2 linked regions of the Homo sapiens genome follow. The protein of the gene in region 1 interacts with the protein of each later gene in a pairwise test. Each region holds a gene or a part of one and is shown on either strand. Other genes may lie near its edges.

Region 1 (3,428 bases):
GTCTACCACTTGGAGCTGGAACTTTTATAGCTTTTAAAACAGAATGCAGTGATGCCAACAAGTTTCTCTGGCACCCTTTAGGTACTCAGAATGAATGAGAATCACTCAATTATGTTATGAAACAGTTTTCTCCTAAAGTAGGAGCATTTGTTCTCAAACTTCTATTGTTTTAAAAAAGTATTGTGGTTATAGTTTTCTTCTTTTTGCCCTGACTTTTACTTTATTGCCACTCTCATGGTGCTGCCCTGTAAGACCCTCTCCTCATTGGCTGCTTCTTTGATGCAGTAGATTATCCTTAAAGCAAGAGTCAATAAACTTTGGGGGTGTTTTAAGAGACAGCCTTTTGAGAAACATGCATGAGCTTTAGAGAATGAATTGTGTGACCTCCACTGCGACTAGTCTGTGGCCATTTATCCTCAATGATTTGGGTTTATCTTCAGATAATTGAAAGGTGCTAGATAACATGAGCTCTGAATAATAATAAGGCCTCTGAGGCCTTAGAGGTTTATTGTCTTCATTAGCACACTATTTAAATTTCTAGTGTCAATACCAATCATTTGCTTGATATATTTGGTTTTATTGTTTTTTCTCTTAGTGATCCCTGTCAATTAATCATAATTCAGTTCACCAGGAGTAAGTTTTTCCACATAAAGACCACTTTTGATCAAGACACAATGTTATATTTAAGTTATTAATTGACAGTCAACAACTTATTTATTAATATGGATTCATTAGCAAATGTGCCAATTAGTTTTCTTGTCTTCAGTTTTAACACATACAATAGTAACCCCGAAAGAAACTCACAGATTAACAAAAAAGAACAACACTCTAGGACTTGGCACGATTATTCCATAGGAAGAAAATTTATTTCATGTTGTGAGTGCAAATTTTAGTAACAATTCTGTTGAAGTCACTTTTCTAGGACTCTGTTTCCAAAGCAATTAGTTCAGCTATTCAAGATGAAACACATTATTTATCAAGATGTGATATTTTGAAATGTCACAGGAGAGAAACACATGACAAAAGGCAACACATTTGTTTAATTTCATTAGTTACAAGCGAACTTCTAGGTAAGTCATGATTTTCGATGTTTATAATATTTCTATTAAGATGTGCAGGTCTCAATGATAGTGATGAGTGGGTATGGCTGTGGAGAGATTCCAGGTGAGTCCAGCAGGGACCATCTGTGGGGACCCATTAACGACACTTCACAATCTTAAAACAACAAAGAGCTTTTATTTCATGGTGTGGTTTATGAGCATTCAGAAGTAATGTCATCTCTGCTTGGAGACTTTTCTAGCAGGACATTAGGGGGCTATCATCACAGGTAACCTGGAGAGTACATCTGTAGATAAAGATCCTGACTATTTTAAGTAAAGAAGAATTATTGGGGAAAAGAAGCTTTATGTCCAGTGATCAACAGGGCTGGAAAGAGCTGGCAGTTTCAGAAAAGAAGAAACCTCTCTTGACAGCTTTAGTATCATACCGTGGACTGGAAATGGCAAAAATCATCCCTAAAGACAAGCGAAGTGTTTTGAAGTGACTCTTCATAGTGAAGTAGCAACTCTAAATAGCCAAAATTTGCAACCATCGTTTACTCTTTTATATAAACACGAATCTGTTTTTGGCCTGATATAACAGCTGGGTAGATCTAGTAATTAAATGAATGATTCAGATCCAGGCGAGTATGTTTACTTAATTGAATTTTTGGCTCAGACATCATAATCAAAAGTGAAACAAAGGAAAAATTTCCTGGGTCATGTGTCTAGGCTTCAAGGACTAGGAGTCAGCAGCCCTACAAAATAGGAAAAACAGATTCTACTTACTTAGTGCTCTTCTTTCTCTTTATCTTAGAAATATATATTTGAGGGAAAGGGATGTACTAGAGTTTTAAAATTGGAAGAAGCTATTGGACTCCTTCATTTCTACAGATTTAAGTCCCATAGTTAATTAGTGTCCAGCCTGTTTTATTAATCAACAGGGGATTGAGTGTGCTCTGCCCATAATTCCCACTTATTGCTACTCAGAAAGACTTCCTAGAGTTCACATCTTTTATGCTATGAGGCTGGCCAAGAAGAGCAATTCTTAGTTTGCTAGGCCACATAAGCTGAAATCTTGCCAGTTTTTCCAGGCAACACATAATAGCTTGGTCACATCAGGTGGATTCTTGTGAAGAGATGATTAATAGGTTGAGTTAAAAAACAAAACAAAGCAAAACAAAACTTAAAGCTAATTCTTACCCTCCTTCATGTCTCATAATAGCTGTTTCTTGTATGACAGCTAGCTGTGTTTGGCTTTTCAGTTTTAAGGAAATCAAGTTCTCTTTGTATCAGGGAACATCTAGTTGAACTGAGCCAACGTGGGACTGATTTTATCTTGTGGTCACCAACCAAATTAATAGCATTTTCCATTTGCTGAATCTTTAGTATGAAATGTTATACAAAACTGAGAAGCTCTATATTGACATAGCTCAGTTAATATTTACTGAACATCCTACACAATGACATCTCTGGACTTGGCATCAAGAAAGTCTTCTAGATAGTGTAGATTATTTTGATTTCACCTGGCATTCAAATATGCTGGTAGCCTAACTTCCTTCTTGGGGGCAATGATTAGGTTAATACTAATCACTCTCCAGAGATAAACTCTTGCCCCATGAAACATTGAAACATCGCCTGCACAAGAGTGAGGGCAGCTATGTGTTGGGGGTGTCATGGGATTGGAATGCATATTCAAGAAACTATTATTTTGTAAGTTCCCCTACCATTGTGAGTAGTGTAGTGTTAACTTACAAAACCGTTTGCATATACTCTTCTGAGATTTGGCCTTGCTTCTTTGGGGTTAGATGGGAGTTTTCAATCAGTTCATAGACATCTTCCATGTTGTGGAGACCCTGCCTCATCTCGTGGGTAACCTTTTGAACCTGAATATCAGTGCTGTTCTTTGGAGGAACCCTCTGCCCCCGGTATGCCTGAGCCTGGCGTTTACAGATGCCAAACTTGCTGAGTAGGATGAACACATCCCTCTGGAAGGCCTTGGTGAAAATAGCATAGAGGAATGGATTGGCACAGGAGTTAAGTGGATAGAAGAGTACCAGCAAGATTTTGGAGTTGCTAACAGTGATGAGAGGCTTGTTCAGAATTGCTGACAGAGCATAGAATGAGATTGGGGCCATGCATATGAAGTCGGTGAAGATCAACACAGCCATCCTCTTGGCAATTTTGGTATCTTTGTCCCCTGGGTTGTACTGCGGATTTCGGACTGTGATGTAGATCTTCACATAACAGCAGCAGACGATGACGAAGGCAACTATGTTGAGCGTCAGAACAAAAACAATATATGCCAGAGCAAGAGGGGTCTCGGTGTCCATGGGCAGGCAGATACTGACTTTGGCATAGCTACTTATTCCCACCAAAGGAAGCAGGGCG
Region 2 (3,835 bases), on another chromosome or scaffold:
AAAATAGCCCCATGAAGCAGCCATTATTACAGTATTATCACAATTTAATAGATGAATAAACTTATGTTTAATCACGTGCCCCAGGCCCTTTAGTTGGAAAGTCCAAATCTGGTACAAGGTCTGTCTGACCCCAAGTCCAGGTTTTTGACTGTTGCTCTTTGAGTACAATCACTAGAAAGTCTAGAGAGATTTTAGATATACAATAACATTTTCAAGGGTTTATCCTTACTCTAAAAAATTTTGTTTCTTTCTTTGAGAGTCAGCTCTTTGGAAGGGTTTATTTTCCATTCCTTCTAAAATGGAAAAAGGATGATGCTTACTTTTTAATCATATCATTTTAATAAAATAATCAGGTTCCAAACAGATGGTAAATAAATGACAGAAAAGAAAAACTCTTTGGAAAACTAAAATTTCTTGTATGTAGATGGCCCAATATTCTTCCTTTTCTTCCCTCCTTAATATACAGAGTTAATTGAGAAATGTTTGCTGAAGCATAAGACAACCATTTACACTGATAAAATAATAGGAAGTGTATGAAAATTGATCAAACCTTTAAGACAAGTCTAAACAATTTCTTAATTAGGTATTTCTACCCAGTTACTGAAGTGTAGCTTACTTGGATTGCACTGCTTTCACTGAATATTAAAAATGTCACTAATAAACATCCCAACCCATAGCATCTGTCCCAGATATATTTGAACAGCTGGAGAATTCATCAGTTCTTGGCCTTTTGCCACCACTCATCCTAAGGCATGTCATACCCAAGAATGAACTTCAAAACCCATATTATAATGCACCTCTTATATTCAAAACATCAATTTCCTAGTCAGTTCTTGTCAATCAGCAAATTATTTTAGGGAGTAGGTGAGGCACTTGTGAATATCATTTCAATCCTTTCAGACTCCTAGCATAGCCTTTAATAAATCATTGCTCCATTGAACTGTGGCATTTAAATGCCTTGAAAGAGTTAATGGAGCATTTGAAATAAGTTATTTGCCCCTCAGTAAGTTACACCCTGACAATACAACTTAAAACAACAATAACAACAAAATATTCTACAAGAAAAACTTACTTATAGTCAAATGCAATTGGCTTGTTTATTGTTTTATTAATCTTAAGGCTTTATAGTATAACTAACAGCAGGATCCATTATTAATAATGCTAACAGCTTCTAGAACTTTGAGATAAGGCAATAAATCACTAAAATTTCCCATTTTCTCTCAAGTAATTTTAGCCTCAAGCAGTTTGTCAAAAGTCTGAATTTAAAAAATAACCAAAAACAAAATTATCTCCCTGTTCTGTTTATGCAACGTAAATATTAAATTAAGCACCATGAACAAGTAACATGTTTTAAGCATTTTTGTGACTGGATATTTTATCCTCATGTCTTTTAATTTAGGTACCATACTCGGAATTGGGTGGCAAAACCCTAGTGATGGCTGTATATGATTTTGATCGTTTCTCTAAGCATGACATCATTGGAGAATTTAAAGTCCCTATGAACACAGTGGATTTTGGCCATGTAACTGAGGAATGGCGTGACCTGCAAAGTGCTGAGAAGGAAGAGGTAAGGGAATTACTAGCATTTCTAACATCACAAGCTGTACTCGCCAGTTGCTGCTCATATAATAACTTATTGAGAAATACTCTTTACAAAGGGGGATGTGGGCCTCTAGTTGTTGACAGCTGATAAAATAGGGTCAAGGGCACTGCACCACCTCGTTAAAAAGTGTACAGGTCTTCTGGGTGTTATCTGAAAGAAGAGAGACATTTGTGTACTGGATCTAGAAACAGCAACCCTGGACACAAACAAACACACATGCCCACAGGAACTCTTTCTAAAAGCTTACAAAAGGCCACACACACTCATAAACTACTGCTTTAAAATGACAACGAAAAATTATTTTATTTCTCATTTTTCCACAATCATTTTGTGTTTTCTGCATAGGTTATGTAGCTATTACACAGAAATAAAATGGTACTTTTTCCTTGATTGTTTCTGCATATCACAGACAGTTCATTGTTTCTCCTAAAGATACGAGAGCATGATTGGTCAAACATCAAATATAATTCACAAAGCCTGATATTAAATCCATTTTTTAAATGACTCACATTTTTATGCTACTCCTCACATTGTTTATTCCCAGTTTTAATAGTTTAGCCCAGTATTTTTCCATGACTTGAAAAGGGAAGTTCAATATGTTTAGTGCATTTAAGCTTCATAATAATCAATTGTATCTGATTATGCGATGCCTGCCTGGCACCAGCATTTTTCTCTGCAAACATTTCAGTAGACCAATACTAGAAAAGCAAACAACCCTTAGCTTCTCCAAATTCCTAAAACAACTCCTTTCGCAGTCACTCTTTAGTTCCTGACGTAAGGCTGTAATTACGCAAGAGATTGCTGACAGCTCAGTCATTTAGGATCTCCAGGTCCCTAGGATTCCCTGGCCTCTTGGGGTCACCAGGGAGATCAGAGAGAACGTCAGGCCTTCAGAGAAACTCAATCAAGTCCATCACCTGGGAATCCTCTCAGCCTAAGGTTTTCTGTGACCAATCTGAGGCTATGAACTTTATACCCCCTATATGATGAAATGAGGTTTTAGAACAGGCCTATTAATTCCCATGCTGAAATTGAACTTTTCACTCTAACATTGCTGTTTGCTATTTGATTTTACAAAATGAGTCAAAAATACTTAAGTTAAACTCTGCTCTTTTTTTTGGAAAAAAGTATGTATACTTATACTTTCCAAAAAAGAGAGCAGAGCTTAAGTATTTTTGTATATAATATTCATGTATACTTATTATATATATATATATATATATATATATATATATATTTACTGTCTCAATATCTAAGAATGTTGACTAACCTTTCTTAGACATTGACACAGATTTAGCCCTACTGTGGATATTCAAGAATACCCAGGAAAAATACCGAGTTTTAAAATTATATGATTTTATGGATAGTTCTTTCCTATAAGTGAACTAATAGTAATGTTACAGACATCTTCATGAAAAAAAAAATTCGATCATTCAGTTACAATGTTTATAATTATTTAACAAAGTAGTGGGATGTTTCATTGACTTTTTTGTTGAAGTGTTTGACTTTGTGTAAATTTTTTGGGTGATAAAGTAGGACCATAAGAAATGTTTATTAACTGATTGGTTTTATTAATTGACTGGTGTTTGGTTGGCTTGTTGGTTGAATATGAGAACATGAACCACTGGTACTTCACAATGCCCACTTGTGCAGGGTGCATGGTTCACACTTGTTACTTTCACCTGGATAATTATCAGGTGGTAATGACATCCAAGATCACACCCAGTGGGTTTCTGAAAAATTGTGCAATGTTTTTTTCTGAGCTAAGGGAATGTGGACCATTGAGCAAGTTTCCTCTTTCAGAAATCTTTGAGTACGAGCAGAGTTTGAAACTTAACACCAGGCTGACGGGTTTCACTCTAGAATCTAGGGGTTTAGGTAAACTGCCCATTCAGAATTTTAACCTAGAAAGTGGCCTAACATGATTTACCCCTTATCTTACTTACCGATGAAATAGAATAGAACATGAAGTACCCAGCATAGAGTCTGGCATATGGTAAATGTTCACTAAGTGAGAGGTCTCTCATACCTTTTTCTTGGTTAATTTTGTGTGTGTGTTCTCTTTCCCCATTTTGTGTGTTCATCTCCTCATTTGTTGTGTCTCTTCCCTCTATTTTTATCTACTTCGCTATCCTTTTTCTCACCATTGCACTTACTGAGTATCTGTAGGAGTTATTAATGGGAAATATTAATTTTATCATTACACTCGTAAAACTCTAGAGACTTTCCTCT

Evidence for each region.
Region 2: the proteins of TSHR (region 1) and SYT1 interact in a two-hybrid assay, tested with the Homo sapiens proteins (one large-scale study listed by BioGRID and IntAct).

The regions. Positions count from the first base shown.
Region 1 is NC_000014.9:81,143,714-81,147,141, reverse strand, and holds the end of TSHR (thyrotropin receptor isoform 1 precursor), read right to left. Parts: coding exon 2,789-3,428; 3' UTR 836-2,788; downstream 1-835. UniProt on the Homo sapiens protein: Receptor for the thyroid-stimulating hormone (TSH) or thyrotropin. Also acts as a receptor for the heterodimeric glycoprotein hormone (GPHA2:GPHB5) or thyrostimulin. The activity of this receptor is mediated by G proteins which activate adenylate cyclase.
Region 2 is NC_000012.12:79,297,985-79,301,819, forward strand, and holds part of SYT1 (synaptotagmin-1), read left to right. Parts: intron 1-1,399; coding exon 1,400-1,567; intron 1,568-3,835. UniProt on the Homo sapiens protein: Calcium sensor that participates in triggering neurotransmitter release at the synapse. May have a regulatory role in the membrane interactions during trafficking of synaptic vesicles at the active zone of the synapse.